Linked DNA regions of Homo sapiens. The protein of the gene in region 1 purifies or fractionates together with the protein of each later gene. This does not show direct contact. Each region holds a gene or a part of one and is shown in the gene's direction. Other genes may lie near its edges. The genes, in order: UPF3B, SART1, WBP11, PYM1, PAIP1, XRN2 and CACNA1C.

Evidence for each region.
Region 2: the proteins of UPF3B (region 1) and SART1 fractionate together in Homo sapiens (co-fractionation; one large-scale study listed by BioGRID). This does not show direct contact.
Region 3: the proteins of UPF3B (region 1) and WBP11 fractionate together in Homo sapiens (co-fractionation; one large-scale study listed by BioGRID). This does not show direct contact.
Region 4: the proteins of UPF3B (region 1) and PYM1 fractionate together in Homo sapiens (co-fractionation; 2 studies listed by BioGRID). This does not show direct contact.
Region 5: the proteins of UPF3B (region 1) and PAIP1 purify together in Homo sapiens (co-immunoprecipitation; one large-scale study listed by IntAct). This does not show direct contact.
Region 6: the proteins of UPF3B (region 1) and XRN2 fractionate together in Homo sapiens (co-fractionation; one large-scale study listed by BioGRID). This does not show direct contact.
Region 7: the proteins of UPF3B (region 1) and CACNA1C purify together in Homo sapiens (co-immunoprecipitation; one large-scale study listed by IntAct). This does not show direct contact.

The regions. Positions count from the first base shown.
Region 1 is NC_000023.11:119,842,964-119,846,463, reverse strand, and holds part of UPF3B (regulator of nonsense transcripts 3B), read left to right. Parts: intron 1-1,167; coding exon 1,168-1,266; intron 1,267-3,162; coding exon 3,163-3,273; intron 3,274-3,500. UniProt on the Homo sapiens protein: Involved in nonsense-mediated decay (NMD) of mRNAs containing premature stop codons by associating with the nuclear exon junction complex (EJC) and serving as link between the EJC core and NMD machinery.
Region 2 is NC_000011.10:65,964,734-65,968,233, forward strand, and holds part of SART1 (U4/U6.U5 tri-snRNP-associated protein 1), read left to right. Parts: intron 1-358; coding exon 359-485; intron 486-608; coding exon 609-714; intron 715-968; coding exon 969-1,046; intron 1,047-1,153; coding exon 1,154-1,253; intron 1,254-1,342; coding exon 1,343-1,485; intron 1,486-1,616; coding exon 1,617-1,823; intron 1,824-2,525; coding exon 2,526-2,650; intron 2,651-2,737; coding exon 2,738-2,853; intron 2,854-2,945; coding exon 2,946-3,088; intron 3,089-3,500. UniProt on the Homo sapiens protein: Plays a role in mRNA splicing as a component of the U4/U6-U5 tri-snRNP, one of the building blocks of the spliceosome. May also bind to DNA.
Region 3 is NC_000012.12:14,793,479-14,796,978, reverse strand, and holds part of WBP11 (WW domain-binding protein 11), read left to right. Parts: coding exon 1-172; intron 173-1,874; coding exon 1,875-2,008; intron 2,009-2,242; coding exon 2,243-2,442; intron 2,443-3,056; coding exon 3,057-3,248; intron 3,249-3,500. UniProt on the Homo sapiens protein: Activates pre-mRNA splicing. May inhibit PP1 phosphatase activity.
Region 4 is NC_000012.12:55,917,895-55,921,394, reverse strand, and holds part of PYM1 (partner of Y14 and mago), read left to right. Parts: intron 1-3,500. UniProt on the Homo sapiens protein: Key regulator of the exon junction complex (EJC), a multiprotein complex that associates immediately upstream of the exon-exon junction on mRNAs and serves as a positional landmark for the intron exon structure of genes and directs post-transcriptional processes in the cytoplasm such as mRNA export, nonsense-mediated mRNA decay (NMD) or translation.
Region 5 is NC_000005.10:43,533,078-43,536,577, reverse strand, and holds part of PAIP1 (polyadenylate-binding protein-interacting protein 1), read left to right. Parts: intron 1-937; coding exon 938-1,044; intron 1,045-1,607; coding exon 1,608-1,725; intron 1,726-2,785; coding exon 2,786-2,840; intron 2,841-3,500. UniProt on the Homo sapiens protein: Acts as a coactivator in the regulation of translation initiation of poly(A)-containing mRNAs. Its stimulatory activity on translation is mediated via its action on PABPC1. Competes with PAIP2 for binding to PABPC1.
Region 6 is NC_000020.11:21,386,828-21,390,325, forward strand, and holds the end of XRN2 (5'-3' exoribonuclease 2), read left to right. Parts: intron 1-40; coding exon 41-179; intron 180-2,445; coding exon 2,446-2,511; 3' UTR 2,512-2,998; downstream 2,999-3,498. UniProt on the Homo sapiens protein: Possesses 5'->3' exoribonuclease activity. May promote the termination of transcription by RNA polymerase II.
Region 7 is NC_000012.12:2,584,487-2,587,986, forward strand, and holds part of CACNA1C (voltage-dependent L-type calcium channel subunit alpha-1C), read left to right. Parts: intron 1-16; coding exon 17-131; intron 132-889; coding exon 890-1,010; intron 1,011-1,348; coding exon 1,349-1,418; intron 1,419-3,500. UniProt on the Homo sapiens protein: Pore-forming, alpha-1C subunit of the voltage-gated calcium channel that gives rise to L-type calcium currents. Mediates influx of calcium ions into the cytoplasm, and thereby triggers calcium release from the sarcoplasm.

The DNA.
Region 1 (3,500 bases):
CTCCGCCTCCCAGGTTCAAGTGATTCTCCTGCCTCAGTCTCCCAAGTAGCTGGGATTACAGGCGTGCACTATCACGCCTGGCTAATTTTTGTATTTTTATTTATTTTTATTTTTATGTATTTATTTTTTTGAGACGGAGTCTTACTCTGTCGCCCAGGCTGGAGTGCAGTGGCATGATCTCGGCTCACTGCAATCTCTGCCTCCTGGGTTCAAGTGATTCTCATGCCTCAGCCTCCAGAGTAGCTGGGATTGCAGGCACGTGCCACCACGCCCAGCTAATTTTTGTATTTTTAGTAGAGACAGTGTTTCACCATGTTGGCCAGGCAGGTCTCAAACTTCTGACCTCAGGTGATCCTCTCATCTCGGCCTCCCAAAATGCTGGGATTATAGGCATAAGCCACGGTGCCCAGCCCAACGTGATAATTTTATATATGTATACATTATGAAATGTATACATTATGAAATGTATACATATTGTATACATATATACATTATGAAATGTATACATAATGTATACATATATACATTATGAAATATATACAATCAAGTTAACACATTCATCACCTCACATAACACATCACCTCAAATAGTTACACTTTTAAAAAATAACAGCTTTATTGAGATATAATTCACATGCCTGAAATAGTCACCCTTTTAAAGTATACAGTTCAGTGAATTTTAGTATATTCATAGGCTTATGAGCCTATCACCACAATCTAAATTTAGAACATGTTCATCACCCCTAAGAGAAACCCCACCCATTAGTTGTCACTCCTCATTCTTCTCACCACTTCTACCCCAAACTCCAGGCAGCTACTACTCTACGTTCTGTCTCTATAGATTTGCCTATTTTGGAGATTTCTAACATTTTAAAATGAAAAATAGTTTGTAGGGTCTTTTTCACATTAAAATATCACATTTTATAAGTTGAATTTATATGAATATTTTACTTTCATGCCGTGTTGTTTCACTATGTTATCAGTGTGAATTTGTGGCTCCTTTTGTAGTATGTTGATTATGGTTGTGCCAGTGTGCTTTATGCCTTTGGGAGACCCTCTTCAGATGACTGCCATCAAAAGAGTCATAGAAAGCAATGGGTTGATTCCCTTATATCCACTTTTGACATTTTCTTTGTTATAGCAAGTGTGGTATTTTTTTTCTAAACAGGTCAGGAATATCCCGCTATAGTAGAATTTGCACCTTTTCAAAAAGCTGCAAAAAAGAAGACTAAGAAAAGAGATACCAAAGTCGGGACTATCGATGATGGTACAGTATAGCTCTAATTATATAATGCTATTGCTGTGGGGTTTTTAAAAATAATATCTTTGTGAGAGTTAATTCGACCCCAAAATTTTAAATTAGAAAATATACAAAATAAAGTAAGTGAGAAATGTTATTTGCCGATGGAAGCTTTGCTTAATTGTTAGACTAGAGAGAGTTTCTTGCACAGAATCTCTGCTCTCTTTGGCTAGGGCATTTCATTCTTCAACCATTGAACAATATAATGTTGACTATTGAGTAACAAATCACCATAGGTTTATTGATTAGAAGATAGTGGAAAGGCCAGGCGTGGTGGCTCACGCCTATAATCCCAGTACTTTGGGAGGCCAAGGCGGGCGGATCATCTGAGGTCAGGAGTTTGATACCAGCCTGACCAACATGGAGAAACCCTGTCTCTACTAAAAATATAAAATTAGCCGGGTATGGTGGTGCATGCCTGTAATCCCAGCTATTCGGGAGGCTGAGGCAGGAGAATCTCTTGAACCCAGGAGGCGGAGGTTGCAGTGAGCTGAGATCACACCATTGCACTCCAGCCTGGGCAACAAGAGCGAAACTCCATCTCAAAAAAAAAAGAAAAAGAAAATAGTGGAAAAAAATCAGGTTTCAAAGTTTAACAGGTGCTTCTTGAGGCCTCACCATTTTTATGATTATTTATTTGACTTTTGGTTTCCATTATATTTATAAAGAAGAAGGTTTGAACTGTCATGGGAAAATTTCCATACCCAGGTAACTTTGTATAAAGTAGCTGAAGTTGTCACTCCTATTTTCTGGTCTTTGGATATACAATTAGCTACACACATAGTATTAGGTTGAACAGGAATAGAAGAACTGAGGCCAGGCGCGGTGGCTCACTCCTATAATCCCAGCACTTTGGGAGGCCAAGGCGGGCAGAGTTGCTGAGGTCAGGAGTTCGAGACCAGCCTGGCCAACATGGTGACACCCCATCTCTACTAAAAACACAAAAATTAGCTAGGCATGGTGGCGGGCACCTGTAATCCCAGCTGCTTGGGAAGCTGAGGCAGAAGAATCACTTGAACCCGGGAGGCGGAGGTTGCAGTGAGCTGAGACCGCACCATTGCACTCCAGCCTGGACAACAAAAGCAAAACTCCGTCTCAAAAAAAAAGAAAGAAAGAAAGAAATACAAGAACTGAAAAACCAAAATAATTGCCATTTAAGGTACACTGGCTCCAGATTTTGAGACCTCTGTAATGTTATGTTAGATAGCTGTTACACAACTCTTTATGTTGGATAAGGACTAGGACCATATTTTATATCAGATTGTTACTTTAGAATCATCTAGTTTAATTTCCATCATTTGTTACTATTACAGGTATTTTATAAAGAAAACACGGTAAGGACTCAATAACACATAGCTGTGATACTGGTTTTATTACAGATTTAGATCTGGAAGACTTGATCAAGTGACACATAGAAACAAGCAATATAATGGCTTAGATGTGTCACCCTTTCTGATGTTAGAGGTCTAGGAGAGAACTCCAGGAATTCCCATCACCTCAAGTGCCACATCTAGGACTTCTCTCTAATTTATCTTTTTGGAACACCTAACTTAGTTTAGTAGGACAGTGACTTTTAAAAGCAAACTATGTAATACCCCTAGTGGTTCTGTTATAATGCATGGCGTCTCATTTTTCCTGACCCCATGTTATACCAGATTCCTATAGTGAGTATCAGTGATAGGAGTCCTGAGAGCAAGTGACCAATTAAGCTCTAAATAGTCTACCTTGTGGGTATGGTTTGGTTTTTTTTAATCTTCCACGAAGTAAAAAATTATCTTCTTTGATAAATCAGTATTGTAGATAATGTCTTCTTTTTTTGTTTAAAGTCTATTATATTTTCTGTTTCCTCAAATGATTATTTAGATCCAGAATATAGAAAGTTTTTGGAAAGTTATGCCACAGATAATGAGAAAATGACATCTACTCCAGAGACACTGCTAGAGGAAATAGAAGCAAAAAATAGAGAATTAATAGGTAAGTGGGCAAAAAGAATCAGGGCAACAGTCTTTTCATCACAGTACCTAAGTCTCCTACCTCCATCAGTTGCTAGCTGTGTGACTTCAGGGAAGTTACTAGTTTCTCTGAGACTGTTACTGTAAATTGCAGATGGTAATACCTGCCTCACAGCATTATGAGAATCCATTAAAGTGGGAAAAATTCTTTGACCTATTTAGTTTCACACAAATGTAATATAAATACAA
Region 2 (3,500 bases), on another chromosome or scaffold:
GGGCTCCGCCTGCTCTCTGAGTTGGAGCTGTGGCCGTCGCATACTCACTCTGGCTGTGAGTTGTTAGATGGACTGGAAGATGTGCACACTTGCTGCAGACTGCGCTGTGCGGGGGTGGGTTTCTTGTTTTTCTTTAAAGCACGATTTGAGGGGCTTTGGAAGCCACAGAGGGTCCTGTTGTGCTGCATGGGTTGGCCAGGAGTGTGGGGACGAAGTGGGAGCAGGGAGGTGAAGGATTGTTCCTTCCTGTCCTGACCCCTTCTGGCCCCCTGAGCTGGAAGGGGGCAGGGTGAGTGGCTCCCTCCTCTCCCCACCAGCCATGGGCGGGCATAGCCTCACGTCTGGGCCCCCCTTCCAGAGGCGGGCACCAAGGAGGAGCCCGTGACAGCTGATGTCATCAACCCTATGGCCTTGCGACAGCGAGAGGAGCTGCGGGAGAAGCTGGCGGCTGCCAAGGAGAAGCGCCTGCTGAACCAAAAGCTGGGGTGAGGGGTCCTGGCCAGGGCAGGCAAGGGAAGGGCTGGGGAGGCCACCATCCTTGGCTGCCTCTTGAGTGGGGTGGGGAGCAGGAGCTGGGCTCCTTGAGCATCACTTTTTCCCCTCTTCAGGAAGATAAAGACCCTAGGAGAGGATGACCCCTGGCTGGACGACACTGCAGCCTGGATCGAGAGGAGCCGGCAGCTGCAGAAGGAGAAGGACCTGGCAGAGAAGAGGGTGAGCACCTGGGCAGCATGGGGTGGTCGCCTAGTGCTTCTGGTGGCCTGACGGCACTGAGGCGGGGGCCAACCCCAGAGAGGTGAGACGGGGCTTGGAGAAGGGAAGGGCCGTGGTCGGTAGCATCTACTTTGGATTCTCAGCAGCTTTCCTGCAAGGCCTGCCCTTTTTGCACTCCGCTTGGTAGAGCCCTGAGTGTTTTCTGGTGATGCTGAGTGGCCTGAAGTCCTAGGTCACCCCTCCCTGTCCCGTAGGCCAAGTTACTGGAGGAGATGGACCAAGAGTTTGGTGTCAGCACTCTGGTGGAGGAGGAGTTCGGGCAGAGGCGGCAGGTGAGGCTGCAGCAGGGGTGGTACAGGGGACACTGGTGGCCTTGCTACCGGAATCCCGAGGTTGGGTGCGTGGAGGGAGGTTCCTGACTCGCCGATTCTTCCCTTAGGACCTGTACAGTGCCCGGGACCTGCAGGGCCTCACCGTGGAGCATGCCATTGATTCCTTCCGAGAAGGGGAGACAATGATTCTTACCCTCAAGGACAAAGGTAATGCGAGCTGGGTGCCCTGGGTGGGGGCACAGCCTCTGCTGAGTTGCGGACAAGTGTGAATGGCCACTGCTCTGTGCTGCCCCCAGGCGTGCTGCAGGAGGAGGAGGACGTGCTGGTGAACGTGAACCTGGTGGATAAGGAGCGGGCAGAGAAAAATGTGGAGCTGCGGAAGAAGAAGCCTGACTACCTGCCCTATGCCGAGGACGAGAGCGTGGACGACCTGGCGCAGGCACGGCCTGGGCAGGCTGGGTGGCGGGGGCTGAGGTGGAGAATGTCGGGAATGGGGGCTCTGAGGAGGTGGTGGCTCAGTGGCTTTTCAGGAGCCAGCCTGGGTCCCAACCTGTACCTCTTGCCTTGCAGCAAAAACCTCGCTCTATCCTGTCCAAGTATGACGAAGAGCTTGAAGGGGAGCGGCCACATTCCTTCCGCTTGGAGCAGGGCGGCACGGCTGATGGCCTGCGGGAGCGGGAGCTGGAGGAGATCCGGGCCAAGCTGCGGCTGCAGGCTCAGTCCCTGAGCACAGTGGGGCCCCGGCTGGCCTCCGAATACCTCACGCCTGAGGAGATGGTGAGCCCTCCCGTGCCTTATACTCGGGGTCAAGATTCTCCCTCCCTCTGGGGCTCCTGCCCTGCCCGCAGGCACTGAGAAGACAGGGCGAGTATTTGTGTTCACAAAGCGCTTGGCCTCGCGGGTGAGCACTAAATGGCAACCGGGGGAGGCACCAGGTGTGGATGGGTCAGGGCTGCTGAGCCAGATGGGCCCCAGTCTGTTTCGGCTCTGCCATGCTGCCAGCTCGTGCCTTGGATAAACCATTTAACTGTGAGCCTGGGGCACCCCATCTGGAATGGCAGTGACAGGAGCCGCCTCCTGAGGTTGCTGTGAGGATGAGTGACAGCGTGGGTGAGGGGTGACTGGAGAGGTGTGCGTGGATTCTGTCCACAGGGTGACTGTGTGAACGTGAGGTAGACAGCTGGCGCGGTAGGCGTCTTCCTCAGTGGGTAAGAGCAGGACTCTGGAGCCAGACTGCCCAGCTCTCCCACCTAGGAGCTGGGCAACCTTGGGGAAGGTACTTAACCTCCCTGTGCCCCAGTTTCCCTAGCTCACCAGTGGAATTGAGATAGTAACCACCCCACATGTTGCTCATGTGTGGGAAGCGCTCAGGACGCTGGCTAGCACAGAGGAACACCAAAGAAGTGTTCACCCTCGAGGGCTTGTGGCGACCTGCCTTTCTGTGGCCCCCGCTCCATGTCTCGCCCCTCTTCCCTTAAGGTGACCTTTAAAAAGACCAAGCGGAGGGTGAAGAAAATCCGCAAGAAGGAGAAGGAGGTAGTAGTGCGGGCAGATGACTTGCTGCCTCTCGGGGACCAGACTCAGGATGGGGACTTTGGTTCCAGGTGGGCTTGGACACGGTGGTGGGGCGAGATGGCTGGGCTGGGGTGGCCTGGGGACCGGTGCTCACCAGAGAGGCCTCCTTCCCTCAGACTGCGGGGACGGGGTCGCCGCCGAGTGTCCGAAGTGGAGGAGGAGAAGGAGCCTGTGCCTCAGCCCCTGCCGTCGGACGACACCCGAGTGGAGAACATGGACATCAGTGATGAGGGTGAGGGCCCGGCCAGGGGGTGGGAGGGGCAGGGACAGGAGCCGCGGGTTGGAGGAGATGGTCTGAGCAGGCATCCCCTGTGTTTCCCCCAGAGGAAGGTGGAGCTCCACCGCCGGGGTCCCCGCAGGTGCTGGAGGAGGACGAGGCGGAGCTGGAGCTGCAGAAGCAGCTGGAGAAGGGACGCCGGCTGCGACAGTTACAGCAGCTACAGCAGCTGCGAGACAGTGGCGAGAAGGTGAGGCTGGGCATGGGCAGGGTGACTGCGTCAGCAGTCACCTGTCCTCACGAGCACCTGTGTCATAGGCGACAGCCACATTCCTGTCTGAAGCCTCTTTTCCATTTGTTTTTTGTTTTCTGGGTTTGTTTTTTTTTTTTTTTTTTGAGACAGAGTTTCGCTCTTTCGCCCAGGCTGGAATGCAGTGGCGCAGCCTCAGCTCACTGCAACCTCCGCCTCCCAGGCTCAAGTGATTCTTATTCCTCAGCCTCCTGAGTAGCTGGGATTACAGGCGCACGCCACCAGACCCGGCTAATTTTTATATTTTTAGTAGAGACGGGGTTTCACTATGTTGGCCAGGCTGGTCTCCAACTCCTGACCTCATGATCTGCCTGCCTCTGCCTCCGAAAATGCTAAAATTACAGGTGTGTGC
Region 3 (3,500 bases), on another chromosome or scaffold:
ATTAAATGAGAAAGTACTGAAAGACAAGCGTAAAAAGCTGCGTGAAACCTTTGAACGTATTCTACGACTCTATGAAAAAGAGAATCCAGATATTTACAAAGAATTGAGAAAGCTAGAAGTAGAATATGAACAGAAGAGGGCTCAACTTAGCCAATATTTTGATGCTGTCAAGGTAATCAAGGTTTTTTTTTTGAGAGATAAACTAAAATATTATACAGATTGAGTATCCCTTATGCAAAGTGCTTGGGACCAGAAGTGTTTTGGATTTAGGGTTGTTGGGTTTTTTTTATATTTTGTTTTGTTTTTGTGTATATTTGCATATATTTTGGGGATGGAACCCTAGTCTAAGCATGAAATTTATGTTTCATATACACATAGCCTGAAGATAATTTTATAAATTTTGTGCATGAAACAAAACTACGACCCATCACATTAGGTCAGGTGTGGATTTTTCCACCATGGCATCATATGGGAGTCAAAAAGTTTAGGATTTTGGAGCATTTTAGATATTCAGATTAGGGATGCTCAGCCTATACTTAGATTTAAAAAGTTAATGGGAGAATGTCATGTTGAACCTCTTCCTTATAGCAGTTTCTTCTAAAACTAAACATATACCTACTGTGTGAACCTGCAAATCTAATCCTCTTTATTTAAACAGAAGAAATTAATTCAAAAACTTGGATCAGCCTAAGTGTTCACTAATAGGATAATGGATAATTAAACTGTAGCATATTTATACAATAGAATACTATTCAGCAATAAAAGGAATAATCTAATACTCAAAACAGCATGGAATAAAAAAAGAAAAATTGTGAGTAAATCTCAAAAACATGCTAAGTTTATCTCATTGTTATGATTTCATTTTTATGAAATTCTAGAATAGTCACAGATAATCTGTGCAGGAAAAAAAAATGTAGCCGTGGTTGCCTTGGGGGATGATATTAGAGATGGATTGGGAAGGAGTATGAGGTATATGCATTTGTCAAAACTTACTGAATTTGTAAATTTCGTAAATTTTACCTCAAAATAAAGATGGGAAAAAATCAAATGCTATAATTTCTGTAAAGGAGGTAATATGTCTCCCATTTTACAGATGAAGGCACAGGTTACCTTGCTTAGTCAAACTAAGCTAATACACAACAGAAATTCAACATAGGCAAGCTAATGAGCCCAACCTCCACCACTGGATATATACTATTTGTTAGTTGACATATATTATTTTTCTTTTTTTTGTTTATTTTTTGTTTTTGAGACCGAGTCTCACTCTGTTGCCCAAGCTGGAGTGCAGTGGCACCATCTTGGCTCACTGCAACCTCTGCCTCCCAGGTTCAAGCAATTCTCCTCCCTCAGCCTCCTGAGTAGCTGGGACTACAGGCACACGCCACCACAACTGGCTAATTTTTGTAGTTTTATTAGAGATGGAGTTTCACCATATTGGCCAGGCTGGTCTCAAACTCCTGAGCTTGTGATCGACCTGCGTCAGCCTCCCAAAATGCTCGGATTACAGGTGTGAGCTACCACGCCCAGCCTGACATGTATTTTTCTATCACATGTTAAATAGGGTAGTTCTGGTGCTAGATACTTGTAACAGTTGGCTTTCTCTAGACAACAGCTGTTTCGAATCATCCAAAAAGAATTACCTGATAAGAGGAGAAAAAAAACAGCTGGGTTCTGACGTTTTTAGAAGTAAAGATTTCTTTCAGTTCTTTGACAATGTGGAAGTATTGACGTAAGGTTATTTTTCTGGGGGTTTTTGGTGATATTTATGTTAGTTGGAAAGCATGTCCAAGTTACGAAACAGCTGACTTGTCATTTTTAGTGTTTAGTTAGTAGATGACTTTTTTATCATACTACTGAATGGTTCTCTGTTTCAGAATGCTCAGCATGTGGAAGTGGAGAGTATTCCTTTGCCAGATATGCCACATGCTCCTTCCAACATTTTGATCCAGGACATTCCACTTCCTGGTGCCCAGCCACCCTCTATCCTAAAGAAAACCTCAGCCTATGGGTAAGGAAGCAGTGTCACAATCAGAGAGCATTTAGTAAAGGCACAAGTTGACTGTCCAGTGCCAAAATTAATGCAGAGGGAAATAAAAGACAATATGGATGTAAACAGTGTGACATTTGATTAAATGTAAAATAAGAAATCCCTTGAAAATTGTTTAGAAGAGAAAATAAATATCTCATTACTGTTAAGTGATTACTGTGGGGGTTTTTTTGTTTTTGTTTTTTTTTTTAACAGACCTCCAACTCGGGCAGTTTCTATCCTTCCTCTTCTTGGACATGGTGTTCCACGTTTGCCCCCTGGCAGAAAACCTCCTGGCCCTCCCCCTGGTCCACCTCCTCCTCAAGTCGTGCAGATGTATGGCCGTAAAGTGGGTTTTGCCCTAGATCTTCCCCCTCGTAGGCGAGATGAAGACATGTTATATAGTCCTGAACTTGGTGAGAAGTGACTGTTCTTTTGCTTTTATAACTATCATTTTTTATGTTGGCCCTGTTTAACATATTGTTCACCACCCTCAGAACTTAGAAAGTAAATGAGAGGGTATCATGTACATAACTAATATACATACAGTTGGATAAATCATAGGATCTTCTCAAGTAAAAGCATCATACATAAGTATAGAAATGTTTATCGTGTTTTAAATTAGGCTTTTCCTGGAGATGTCACTCTTGCTGCTAATCCTTTAAGACTTGTATATCTGGTTCCCTTTTAGCTTTATTGTCATCAGACTAGAGCGTCATTGTATACATTCACTGACTGTGTATGTGTATACAAACATGATTGTTGCTAAAGGAGGAAATGGGTTTTCAAATTAGAACTCTTTTTAAAAAAATCTTAAATTACCAAAAAGAAGTGTTTAAAATTATTGGCAGAGGAAAATTTTGTTAGACTGTATGAGTAGCTATATATACAAGAATTTTTTTTTTTTTTTTTTGGTAAGAATTAAGTTGTTACAGTCTGAGTTGAATAGCATAATTTTCTGTATTTCTGGGTACCATGTAGTGGAGGGTCCAATCATACTACTTCTCCATGTTCCCTTCCCACTTTTCAGCCCAGCGAGGTCATGATGATGATGTTTCTAGCACCAGTGAAGATGATGGCTATCCTGAGGACATGGATCAAGATAAGCATGATGACAGTACTGATGACAGTGACACCGACAAATCAGATGGAGAAAGTGACGGGGATGAATTTGTGCACCGTGATAATGGTGAGAGAGACAACAATGAAGAAAAGAAGTCAGGTATGTGCAGATGAAGGATTCATGGTATTGATCAATAAAGAGAAAACAAGCTGAAGGTCCTAATTTATTAATGAATCTGTGAGAGTACTCTGAAATCTTTGGAAGTCGGGATCATAGCTGTGTTCATCTTATATATTAAAATTTTGAAAGTTTTTGACACAGTAAGTACTCAGTGGATGTTTATGAGGAAAAGCATTAAACTGTATGTAATAAAAATGTCTATGTAATAAAGTTCACTTTGGGGTAAAAGGT
Region 4 (3,500 bases), on another chromosome or scaffold:
ACTTGTTAGCTATATAGCCTTGGGAATCTAAGTCTTAGTTTTCTCATCAATGAAATTGGAATAACTCCTGCAACACAGGATTATTATGCGTATTAAAATTTAAATAAAGTAATTTACATGTTTGGCACATAAAAAGTGTCCAACACATTGTTCTATAATTATTACTATTATGTAAGGGTCATTGTATGGGTTAGAAGAAATTACTATATATGGCCAAGTACCAGGCATAGTACTTGGGCCATTCCAAGTGCCTGCTAAAATTCTAGTTTCTGTTGTTCTGCAAATATTACTGTGACCTCCTAAACTGGTCATCGTATTTCCAGTCCCTCTCTTGTTTCATTTCTACAGATACACTGCTACCAGATTACTGCTTCTTAAGTGCAAATTTAGTTATGTAATTTTTGTTCAATATTAATTCATCAACCCAGAGTCTGCTGTTATATATGGCATATATCTTTCTAAACTGTTTTAAACATAGCAGAACCAGATGGTATATACATTTTTATATCTTGCCTTTTCATTTAGCCTTATGAGGTAAATGTTTTTCCTTGCTATTAAAAACTCTGTAAACATCTTTTAAAATACTGGCAGAGTGTTTTATAGTTTGGGCATGCACCCTATCTTACTTTCTTCTGTTATTGGACTTTTAGATTGTTTTCAGAATTTTTATTATAAGAACACTAGAATGTTTTTGTGCATGCATCTTTTTCGGCATTTAGGGTTATTTTCTTTTTCTTTTTTTTTCTTTTTTTTTTTTTGAGACGGAGTCTCGCTTTGTCACCAGGCTGGAGTGCAGTGGTGCGATCTCTGCTCACTACAATCTCCACCTCCTGGGCTCAAGTGATTCTCCTGCCTCAGCCTCCCGAGTAGCTGGAATTACAGGCATGCACCCCCACTCCCAGGTAATTTTTGTATTTTTAGTAGAGATGGTGTTTTACCATGTTGTCTAGGCTGGTCTTGAACTCCTGGCCTCAAAGGATCGCCCACCTTGGCCTCCCAGAATGCTAGAATTACAGGCATGAGCCACCGTGCTCGGCCTGATTTTTTAAATTATCTGTAAGATGAGGTCTTGCTATGTTTCCCAGGCAGGTCTCCAACTCCTGGGTTCAAGTGATCCTCTCACCTTGGCCTCCTGAAGTGTTGGGATTATAGGCATGAGCAACTAGTTTTTCTTTTCCTTTTTTTTTTTTAAAGAGACAAGGTCTTGCTCTGTTGCCCAGGTTAGTGTACAGTGGCACAGTCATAGCTTGCTGTAGTCTTAACTGTTGGGGTCAAGCAATTCTCCTGCCTCCTCCTCCTGAGTAGCTGGTACTAGTACTACAGGCATGCGCCACCATGGCTGGCTAATTTTTGAATTTTTTTATAGAGCTATGTTGCCCAGGCTGTTCTCAAACTCATTTTCACAAGCAGTGCTCCCACCATGGCCTTCCAAAGTGGTGGGATTACAGGCATGAGCCACTGCACCCAGCCTAGTTTTTCTTTTTTCTTTTTCTTTTTTTTTTGAGACGGAGTCTTGCTCTGTCTCCAGTCACCCAGACTGGAGTGCAGTGACGCGATCTCTGCTCTGCCAACTGGGCTCAAGCTATTCTGCCTCAGCCTCCCAAATAGATGAGATTACAGGCACGCACCACTATGCCCAGCTATTTTTTTGTATTTTTAGTTAGAGATGGGGTTTCACCGTGTTGGCCAGGCTGGTCTCGAACTCCTGACCTCAGGTGATCTGCCTGCCTTGGCCTCCCAAAGTGCTGGGATTATAGACGTGAGCCACCATGCCTGGCCCCCAGCCTAGTTTTTCTAAGCACATATGCATATATAACATTAAGGTAAAATGACATATTTTGAATTATACTGTTAAGATTGGCTGTTATTTTCTAAAATATGAATCCTTGAAACACCTAGTAATCTTCTGAGATGTGACACAAAATAAATAACTAAAATAGAGGCCGGGAGTGGTGGCTCACGCCTGTAACCTCAACACTTTGGGAGGCTGAGGCGGGTGGATTGCTTGAGCCCAGGAATTCGAGACCAGCCTGGGCAACATGGCAAAACCTCGTCTCTACTAAAAATACAAAAAATTAACTGGGTGTGGTGACACACACACTCCTGTAGTCCCAACTACTTGGGAGGCTGAGGTGGGAGGAATTGCTTGAGCCTGGGAGGTGGAGACTGCAGTGAGTCAAGGTCCAGCTATTGCACTCCAGCCTGGGTGACAGTGACCTCATCTCAAAGATAAATAAAATAAAATGCAAATAATGTTTCTGTGCACAAATTTTGAGAAACACTGTAAACCATATTCCCATCTTGCATATGTACCTGAATAAGAACATAGTAACTCATTTAAGCCTTGCTGTTAAAAAAAACAAACGCAAAATCTTTTTTGGTGTTTAACCCAGAATTTCCCAAACTTATTTAACAATTTTTAGGGATAACCCCTGTTTAATATCTTATGGGAGTAGTATTTTACATAACAAAAGCTTTGGGAAATGTGATTAAATGATAGGACTACCTTTTTTATTTTTGTTTTTTTGAGATGGACGCTTGCTCTGTCGCCCAGGCTGGAGTGCAGTGGTGCAATCTCGGCTCAGTGCGACCTCTGCCTCTCAGGTTCAAGCGATTCTCCTGTCTCAGCCTCCCAAGTAGCTGGGACTACAGGCACGTGCCACCACGCCCAGCTAATTTTTGTATTTTTAGTAGAGACGGGGTTTCACCGTGTTGGCCAGGCTGGCCTCAAACTCCTGACCTCAGGTGATCCACCCGCCTTGGCCTCCCAGTGCTGGGATTACAGGTGTAAGCCACCATGTCCAGCCTAATTTTTAAATTTTTTATAGAGATGGAGGTCTTACCATCTTACCCAGGATGGTCTTGAACTCCTGGGCTCAAGTGATCCTCCTACGTCAGCCTCCTAGTGTGCTGGGATTACAGACGTGAGCCACCATGCCTGGCCTATTTGTTGATTTCCATTTTTATTTTAGATTTAGAAAATGTGCAGGTTTGTGGTTGGGCGCAGTGGCTCACGCCTGTAATCCCAGCACTTTGGGAGGCCGAAGCGGGCGGATCATGAGGTCAGGAGATTGAGACCATCCTGGTTAACACGGTGAAACCCCATCTCTACTAAAAATACAAAAGAAACTTAGCCGGGCATGGTGGCGGGCACCTGTAGTCCCAGCTACTCGGGAGACTGAGGCAGGAGAATGGCGTGAACCCGGGAGGCGGAGCTTGCAGTGAGCCGAGATCACGCCACTGCACTCTAGCCTGGGCGACAGAGCGAGACTCCGTCTCAAAAAAAAGAAAAAAAAAAAAAAGAAAATGTGTAGGTTTGTTACATGGGTATAATTATGTGATGCTGAGGTTTGGGGTATGAGTGATCCCATCACCCAGATAGTGAGCTTAGTACCCAATAGTTAAGTTTTTTTTTTGTTTGTTTGTTTGTTTTTTGTGATGGAGTCTTGCTTTGTTGCCCAGGCTGGAGTTCAGTGGTGTGATCTTGGCTCACTACAACC
Region 5 (3,500 bases), on another chromosome or scaffold:
CCCTTCTTATCTCTGTATATGTGCTCTTATTAAATAAGATCTTACTCTGTTCTGGCTTTTTGTTTTTGTTTTTGCCACCTAATGAAACATCTTAGATTTTTCCATGGCACAGAGATTTACCTCTTTTATTGAATAACTTCCTAGTATTCTGTCATATGCATATGCATTGTTTATCCATTCCGTAACATCTATCAATGTTTACTAATGAATATTTGGATTATCTTCAGTTTAGCCATGGCAGCATTGCTTGTAATCTTTCCTCTTGTCATATATATGTGCAGATACTTTTGTAGGTTAAATTCTTAAACACGGATTTGGTGGGTGGACGAGCATATGTATTTTACGACAAGTAATGGCTAATTTGCCTTCCAAATGCTGAACCAGAGTATAGCCCCATCAGCAGAATGAGTACATCTCTTCCTACATCCTTATAGTGATGGATATAATCAATCTTGGTTTTTGTTTTGTCAGATGATTTTAAGCATTTCTTCATGTTTATTAGCCATTTGTTTATTATTTCCTATAAATTACCTGTTTAAATCCTTAACTGATTTATTTCCTGATGAAATGCATGTTTGTGTTTTTTTTTTTTATTCAAAGCTTCTATACTTGTTGCTTGCTGTATATTTCAAAAAAAGTGACATGTTCATTAAAATCTAATAGCCTATCTTAGTCATACAGGGAATATAACAGTCGTTGACATAAAACCCATGATTAAAGTTCTGCTATTGTTTTTTTTGTTTTAGTTTCTCTCAGTCAAGAGAAATATAGAGGGCGTAGAGATCACTGAATATTAGATGGTAGACAGAATAATTAGGAATATTAAACTTGCTAAATTCATCTTGTTTAGAGAATGCTTGAACTGTTACTGGTATCTTTTTAGAATTTCTATAATACACTATTGAATTTCTTATTTTACTGACACCTGCTTTTTTAGTTGACAGGATCAGTTTTGGAAGATGCTTGGAAGGAAAAAGGAAAGATGGATATGGAAGAAATTATTCAGAGAATTGAAAACGTTGTCCTAGATGCAAACTGCAGTAGGTAGGAAAAGAAGTAATGTAAATAGCCAGTGCATCTCAATTTCTTGCTTTTTCTTTGGAGATTGTTTTTTAATTTGCTATACTTCAGCAGGGTAAGTTGATGGCTAACGGATATACAAAAATGCTTTTCTTTAAAGGAATAATATTTTACCTATAGTTTCTGCTCACTAGACATTTTTGTGATAGACGTGTCAGATATTTTTGCTCAATTACATTTAGAAATTGAAAAAGCTAATTTTCTTAAGATATGAATTAAATGAAAAACAAAATCCAAATATTAACTGTCCAACAAATAAAAGTACTACTGTAAGTATAGTAGGACACATAAAAATGTTTGAAGGATAGCCACTGCCTTTAAGGTCCATATAGTCATAGTTACGTGGAACATAATTCAAGGCTATTTTTTTTTTAAATGAATTTATGTCATATAGGAAACGTCTAGAAAGTCAAGGCATCAGATGTACCTGTTAAATTAAGGAAATAAAGTTTTGGGAATCTGAGATATTTTAGGGTCTGACAGCCCTTATGGTGGATACACTAACTCATTTTCAACTTTGTCTACAGAGATGTAAAACAGATGCTCTTGAAGCTTGTAGAACTCCGGTCAAGTAACTGGGGCAGAGTCCATGCAACTTCAACATATAGAGAAGCAACACCAGAAAATGATCCTAACTACTTTATGGTATGCCAGTGTTTATATTTTAAGTTTTACTTATTGCTTGAATTCCGTTTTGGAAATTAGAAGAGCTACATAAAGCTGTTCTCAGAATTCAGTGCCTAATAACTGTCTTCACTGGCTTTGAGTGACATGGCAGCCATCAGACTGGGTAAAAAAGAAAAGAGACCTGGAATTCTCCAGTGAAAGGGTGGACTAGAGAAAGATATATCCAATGGCAAGAGAGATTGACAAGGCTTGGACTTAAGTGAGCACAGGGATGCCAGGAAGCAGCTTTTCCAGAGAATTTATAACCAAGGACCTGCATCTCAGACTTTTACTTTGCATGTTGTAGTAACGAAAAATAAAATAAAATTGGTTGGCTGGGCGTAGTGGCTCACACCTGTAATCCCAGCGCTTTGGGAGGCCAAGGTGGGCAGATCACCTGAGGTCAGGAGTTCAAGACCAGCCTGACCAACGTGGAGAAACCCCGTCTCTACTAAAACTACAAAGTCAGCTGGGCGTGGCAGTACTTGCCTGTAATCCCAGCTACTCGGGAGGCTGAGGCAGGAGAATTGCTTGAAGCCTGGAGGCAGAGGTTGTGGTGAGCTGAAATCACGCCATTGCACTCCAGCCCAGGCAACAAGAGCACAACTCTGTCTCAGGGAAAAAAAAAAAATGGCTACTAGGCCAGTGATGCCCTGAAGCTCCTGACATGAACAAACATAAAGCAGCTGTGGAGAAATGTTCCTCCAGCCCTGGTCCTGGAAATTCTTAAAAGAAATGGTGGGGTTGGAAACCACAGCTAAAAATGCACTGACACTAAATGACAATGCACAACAGAACAGTTCACTGAAAGACAATAGACAGCACCGTTAGAACCACAAGAACTTGAGATAATGGCATGGAAATCTGAAAACCATAGACTTTCTCAGTGAAGTGAAAATGGCTACCAGGAAGTTAGGTTCCTTTGCTTGTTCTTGCATTATTAGGTGCAGACGGGTGACATCAGCCATGCTTCATTATTGTACTTACAAAAATCAATTCTGAAATGATTACATATTTTTATCACTTTGATTCATCCTAGAATGAACCAACATTTTATACATCTGATGGTGTTCCTTTCACTGCAGCTGATCCAGGTATGTTGTCTCACAGTCATTCCCTCCTCCCAGTTGTTTGGTAAAGTAGTAAATTTACAGAAAACCACATCCTCACCAGCACAAGATTGTAACTTTTTGATGTCTTCACATCATTCTAAAATACCAGTGTAATGGTTTGTCTAATATAGAATGCTCTTCATAGTGACCACTTGAAACATTTCAAATGAAAGTATGATTCCACATATAATGTCTTGTCACTTAACAACAGAGGATGGGAAGAATTCTCAATTAAATGCAACTATTTTAATTTTATATTTCCTCTAACTTTTTTATAATCTTAAATTTTCAGGTGATTAGAATGGAGGGGAAAGACGATTCTAGTTCACTGCATAGTCAGCAACATATATTAATATGGGTTAATACTTTACACGAAGAATTACACATTTCATTCATACTTGGTGTGTGACAGTTAATTAAAATCCAAATCTCTGCACATTTCCTCTTCCAGAAGAGGACCATTTATAGAAAGATTGCCTTAATTGTATTAGATGGAACTGTAGAGTGAGGAAGAGAAATTTTTCCCTTTGGTACAAACTGCAACCAGCTTATGGTTGGAATTTTTCCATTTGTTTCCTCTGGATTCCAAGCATTGACTGTCCTGTGTCTCTAGCACAGAGAAGTTTTTTTAGGGCAAGGAAG
Region 6 (3,498 bases), on another chromosome or scaffold:
TAGGTGTGGCTTCTGATGTAAAACTGGTACTTTCCTACAGAGGCGTTGGGGCTGAACCTCTGCTCCCATGGAACCGGATGCTGCAAACCCAGAATGCAGCCTTCCAGCCAAACCAGTACCAGATGCTAGCTGGGCCTGGTGGGTATCCACCCAGACGAGATGATCGTGGAGGGAGACAGGTAAATGGTTGTGGGATGAAAAGTATACTGCTCACTTTATATTTCAACAAGCCTCACAGGACTCCGTATTTTCTTACCAACATTTCTGGAGAAGACACTGATAGAGTAGCTTAGAGTAGCTTGGCTGAACTTGGGTCTGTCATTAAAAATGTATATGGGTTGAGTACCTGCTTCACTAAATAGGTTATATACCTTGAAGATGCCAAAGAATTTCTAACCCAAAAGCCCTTTAAATCATAGCAGTCAGTGATAATTAGTCCAAGTATAGTCAGTCACCAAAACACATTGTTTTTCCTTTAAGGATATTGTTCTTCAATAGAACCTAGATCCCTCTTAATGGGTGATGATTTTCTGGAAGCTGGAAAGTAAGTCTGCTTTTTCAGCTGTTGTCTTTTAGAAGTCATTTTACAATGTTGTCATTTTAGAAGTCTCCTGCCTTGATTCATCTGATATCCCTCCTCATAAAAGAAATTTCTGCTTGATAATCTTCCACATATTTTTCTTCTCAATGTAAGCAGCTGTATCACTGAATGACTATCATAATTCCTAGACAAATTTAGTATATGTAAGCTTCATGTCCTTCTCTTTACAGCATCCAGTTTTAGCAGCATTTAAGACTGAGGTCTATTTGACATAATTTCCTCCAGCAATTTGACACCCTGGCCAGTATTTACATGCTCTTAATGGAATCCTTACTAGAGAACAAGATTAGAATGCTGTGATTCAGAGTAATGTGTATGGAGTTTGGCACCTGCAGTGATGTGAAGTGGTTTTTAAATTGCTTACCTGGTGTTGCCTCCAGGCCTTTTGCAGTGCTTCACATATTAATTAGTAAGACCTCTCTTCTCACAGCTAAGGAACATATTTTGTATGTTTTTTGATGTATTCTTACAAGTATCTCCACCTTACAAGAAGATAATCACCTTAATTGCAAATAATTTCTTCTGAGATTTTGTTACAGTTTATTTGAATCAGTTTATCGAATTTTGCTTTGAATTCTTTCAGCCCAGGACCTCTAAAAATCGTGTCAGTGAACTAAGGCTCTTTATGTTACTATGGTTAGATGGCACTAGGCCGTTTCAGTGATGAGCATTTTTGAAGTGAGGACTATTTGTAACTGGAAGAAACCTTGGAGAATGTGTAGTCTAGTCACCTCATTTTCCAAGTCAGGAACTGAAACCCTGAAAACCCCACACGGTTCAGCAGGAGAACTGGTAGCTGGCTGCCTAGACTGCTGACCCCAGTTCATCCATTTTCCTCTCTCCTTTGGAGATCTTCCTTTTAAAGGAACTCTGTGCTGTTACAGGAGGTAAAATTCTTATTTACTTAGAAGATATAAACCAATTGGTAAATTTATTATTCTTTTAGGACTTTTTGAAAATAACATTTCTTCTTTCTCAGTCCCTTTGCCAGGGAGATACTTTTTATTAAATCACAATTGTTGAAGCACTATTAAATTGCAGAAGTTTGTTGTTAAAAACATAGAATCATTACTTCATTGTATTTTTAGTAAAGTTTTATATGACCAAACAAGGCCTTAGCCTGCATTCTGGCCTTGAGTCTGCACATGTTCATGTTTAAAGTACTGAAGTGCTCTCTGGGTGGCAAAATGAGGTGGGAGGGGGTTCCATTTCAAAACCCTAGAGGCCTAGGAAAGGACTTATAATGAAGAGGTGTCAGGTTTATCTTTTGTTATACAGAAATGTTATTTGCAAACATACTAGGATATGTTATAAAGGTCACGGCTAATGGATTGTGTAATAACCTTAATATGTCATTTAAAGCCCTACTATTTGTTGCTAAATAAAAAATCCCTAAAATCAATTGCTCATTTGGCCTTAACTGACTTAGCAAGCTCTTGCCTTGGTTAAAGCAAAGTTACTTTCCTTGTGTAATAAGTCTAAATTGATGTGGGTATCTTACCACAAAGTGACTTGAATTACTACTGCTAGGACAGTGAGAAAATTGAGAACCACTGTCTGTACATGTTGTTTACACAGAACACTTTAGTTATTTGTGTGCATTTGTGATTGTTAAGGTTTTTTGTTTTATTTTTCAGTAATAGCATTTGTGCTAGCCTCCAACTTTGCAACAAGTCTGTATTAAAGCTCTGGATCAAAGCACCTTTTATGGGGCCTTTCCATGTGCTGTACCTTTAACACATACTCAGTTTCCTTATGATGTGTTTTTCCATAGAGGTTTAAAGTTAACTGACTTGCAGGAGTATCGGTCCAGAAAATAAACTCTTTCTTTTGTTTATTTTCAGGGATATCCCAGAGAAGGAAGGAAATACCCTTTGCCACCACCCTCAGGAAGATACAATTGGAATTAAGCTTTTGTAAAGCTTTCCCAAATCCTTTCATCATTCTACAGTTTTATGCTATTTGTGGAAAGATTTCTTTCTCAAGTAGTAGTTTTTAATAAAACTACAGTACTTTGTGTATTTCTTTTAACTGTGTATATTTCTACTGATCTGATCTCACTGTTTATGTTGCTTTCCAAAGATGTATGTTGCATAATACAGTGGATCTGAATTTATTATTGCTTATAAAACACATTTGATGGAATAGGAGTACTGGTTTTTCATAATGGTTAAAAATGAAACCAGCTGTGGATTTCAAAACACAGTGTATTCTAGATCATCTAAGATCCATGCTGATTTTTATTGCACAAGAATTAGGTTTGAACTCGAGCTGGAACCTCAGCAAACTAGAGTATATATTGTTCAGTATTTCTTTGGAAACATTTCATTAATGTACTTGTCTTACAGAAATTTCTGAACTTTAGTAAAAAAAAATAAAGTTAAACTTTTAAAACTCTGTTTTGTGTTGTTATTTTGCAGTATTTCAACTTTGAAAATCTTGACCAAGCGTGGTTTTTTAAAATTAACTTTTGCAGAAAACTATTTCTGTAATCAGATGTCCAAACCAAAGGACAAAGAAGTCAATGAAGAAGTAGATTTTAAAAGATAGGGTCAGCAAGACATAACAAAAGCTTTAACTTTGTTGTATTATGTCAGTGACTGATCTGGCTAACTCAGAAATCTTTGTGAGATAAATTACATTTTTACAAATTTAATGTAGACTTCTCCAGTTTTAAGGACTTGTTTTAAATCTTCAAGTTGACAATTTTAATTAATGGCCAAATAGTCTATGCTCCTTAGCATATTTTTGTATGTCATTAGATTGCAATTTGTACTCATGTTTTTCCTTGCTACTAAGTACACTATAAATTGCTTAAATGTGTGTTTGGAGTTCACATACAGCACTTACATATGCATTTTCATTTGATTGCCAAAACATATTTAGACACACATACA
Region 7 (3,500 bases), on another chromosome or scaffold:
GAATGGACACAAACAGATATCCTACTGAATGTGTTCTTGGCCATTGCTGTGGACAACCTGGCTGATGCTGAGAGCCTCACATCTGCCCAAAAGGAGGAGGAAGAGGAGAAGGAGAGAAAGAAGCTGGCCAGGTAACCCTCTAAGCTTGCCCAGGCCTGGGGCTCCAGGGCTCCCATTGTGGAATGTCTTCCCACTGGTGGCAGAGAGAGGCTTGACTGCTAGCCTCTGTTGGCTCTCCCTCCTAGGAGGACTCTGGGTTTGGGGCTTCCTAAGTTGGGCCTCTCTCCTAATTCCTAAGCATCACTCTGGTAGGGACCATCATGAATTATAATAATCTCTGCAATGGTGTCATATTCTCCACCTGCTGGGATTATCTTTTGAGAAGCTGTGATAGGTGGCAGGAGTGTAGGGTGGGGAGAGAGAAAGGTAACCACTCAGTTGGGAAACGCAGCTCCAGCTTACAGAGGGAGTCCTCCTCACTACTTTATAATTCATCTCCAGTGTTAGGAAGGCAAGACGGGGCCCTATGTTGTATCCTATCATTATCTAGACGGGACAGTTCCAGGCCACACAGCTGCCGGGCACTGAGCAGAGCTCCTCCAGGAGCCAATCCTAGATGAGATCCACCATCCTTTTCTGCTTTGGCGACCCAGGCATCTCTGGAGCTGCAAGAGGCCAATTGCGTGTCAGGCAGAGCAGGTGTAGCTCAGCCCCATAGCACTTGTGACTGAGCTGCACACGAGAAGCGTCCTGGAGAAAGGAAGATGGACTCAGACCCAGGGGATCTGTCCCCTCTGGCCCCAACAGGCCACAGGGCGGTTCCCTCCTACACTGTTCCCTATCACTCCAGTAAACAGCCATTTATTTTTTTCTGCTGCTGACTGGCCAGGACTGCCAGCCCAGAGAAGAAACAAGAGTTGGTGGAGAAGCCGGCAGTGGGGGAATCCAAGGAGGAGAAGATTGAGCTGAAATCCATCACGGCTGACGGAGAGTCTCCACCCGCCACCAAGGTGAGGAGCTGTCTCCTTCCTGGAGCTGTGAGGCCGGTGCTGGGGAGGGAGGGCCACAGCCTTCCCAGGCCAGAACCCTGTGGAGAAGAGGAGAGAAAGAAAGACACCCAGTGGAAAGAAAGCCAGTGGGGATGAACAGGAGAGCTGGGAGGGGGAAGATAAGGCAGATTGGCTGGATCCCAGCCATCTGCTGATGTCTTGAAGGAGATATGCAAAGTGACAAGTACCTATTTTTGAGCTAAGTCACTGACTAAAATGCAACTTCAAGGCTACTGCAAGCCTCTTAACTTGGGGACGTATCTAACTATTCTTCCCCCTTCTCCCCTGTGACTGTCTAGATCAACATGGATGACCTCCAGCCCAATGAAAATGAGGATAAGAGCCCCTACCCCAACCCAGAAACTACAGGTACCAGTCCCACTGCCTAACCTGGGATTGGGAGATTGGGGGCAGAGATCTAAATTCTAAAGCCACGTGGGAGTGGCCATATATTAGGGACCATGGTTCCAGTGTCCCTCTGTAAGTACCTTCCACTGCTGAGTGTCTTCTATCTCTATATTTAAGCATCATCAGTCAGCATCTGGGAGGCAGGTTTGTTTCTGGTTTCCTCATAATGAGATCACATTTGAGCAGTGCTTTTGTGTCCTTTCCAAGTTGGATTCAGTGTACATTTAAATTTTTGTTACATTACATGTTGTAAAATCATCATTAATTTATATAATGTATTAGTATGGCATATGTTGCAACATTATGCTCACTTAATATTAATAGTCAATCCCAAGTCTGCCTTGCCCCTACTCAGGAGGCAGTGCCGAGTGCAGGGACAGCTGCCACCACAGATGTCCCACTTGTTGCTTTAGGCAATGATTTCAGGTCTCATTATAAAAGGCGCGCTTACTGACTCCATCTTTTTATGCTTCTATCTGATACCTAAATTGGCAGGCAGTCTGCTTCTCAAGAGCTTTAATGTCAGAGATCAGAGGTCCTCCCTCCAGGCTTCACTTCCCTGCTCCCTGAAATCCCATACCCTGTGCAAGGCCTGGGCTTGCCTTCCTCTGACCTAGGATTGCAGATATTATCGCCAGTTTCAAGCTTGAAGTCAATAACATGCTATCAAGGGACTGTTGATTTTACTGACATTTCCTTGTTCCTGTAGGTTAGGCTATATTTGGGTTGTTCACCAAGTTAGGTGGCTGAGAACCTCCTACATTTATGAGCAAAGCTCGGTTTCCCTTTTTGCTTTCCCTCCGCTGGTTCTCTGCTTAGAACACTCACAGGCATCCTTGGGAACCAGACTCCCTGTGGTCACACCATCCTCACTCCCCTCCTCCTGCAAGGGAATAGGATGTGGTTTCCTGGAGCTTGGATAGAAAGAACAGGAAGGGCGTTTTCATATGCCCGGCATTAAGGCTTTGAAGTTCTTAAAACCCCTTCTAGGGTGAAACCGTTAGGGAATTTCAACGACGTACTAGAATTATTGAACAAATGCAATGGGAGGATCTTGCCTTGATCCTGAAGCAACAAATACACTTTAAAATGACGTTTTAGAGGGAAATGGGGGAAATTGAATATGGACTGGGAACTAAATGATTGAAAGTAGTTTTGTTAATCTTGTTGGTATAATATTTTGTAGTTCTGTTTTTAAACTGCTGCAGTGTTTATGGCCAGAGTCTAAATGTTTACGAGTTGCTTTGCTTTTAAAATATTCCAACAAAAAAAAAATGGGGACAGAGAAGATAAATGGAACAAGATTAGCAAAATGTCCAAAGTTGTTGAAGCTGGTTATATATATGAGGTTTAGTATGTGAGACTGTACTCTTGTGTAAATCTTTAAGGTTTAAAATGAAAGACAGTAATAAAACAAATTCCTTAGAGCCCTGAGAAGAGCCCTCCCATGGGGCCAGCCTCCAGGATGGGCCTCCCTGCACACACAACAGGGCAGATCTAGCATGAGGGTCTTTTCACACAGGCACCCAGCTGCAGCCAGGCCTGTACGGCAGATACACCTCTTGCATCTTCAACAAAAATCTCAAATTCTATTAATCTATACTCTTGGCTTTTCTTTTCTTTGTTGCTCTAATGAAATCAAAGAGAAGAATGTTAATTTTAAAAAAAAAGGGCTAATGAGGATTTTGTCACCAGGTCGGCCATCCTAGAAATGCCTCTCACGTAGCTACCCAGTGGCTCTGAGGACTGGGGGATGCTTACGCTTTCCAGCTGAAAAGCTCTTCCCACCCTCTGCTGAGGCCTCAGGATTCTTGAGATTTTTGAGTGTACGGCCCGCTCCCCGTCATTTCTGTTGGTTACATGTGTCTCTTTACTTTCGTGTTGAGACCTCTGGTCCATACCCTGAGGCTGCCCTGACTGCCCCACCACGTACACCAGCCACCACTCCGGCCTCTGAAGCCAGCCCCAAGCATGCCCATTTGTGCACTATCCCTGGTTTCCAGGTCCTCATCCAGGAGGTCCAAAGGGCAGCATGCTCTTAAA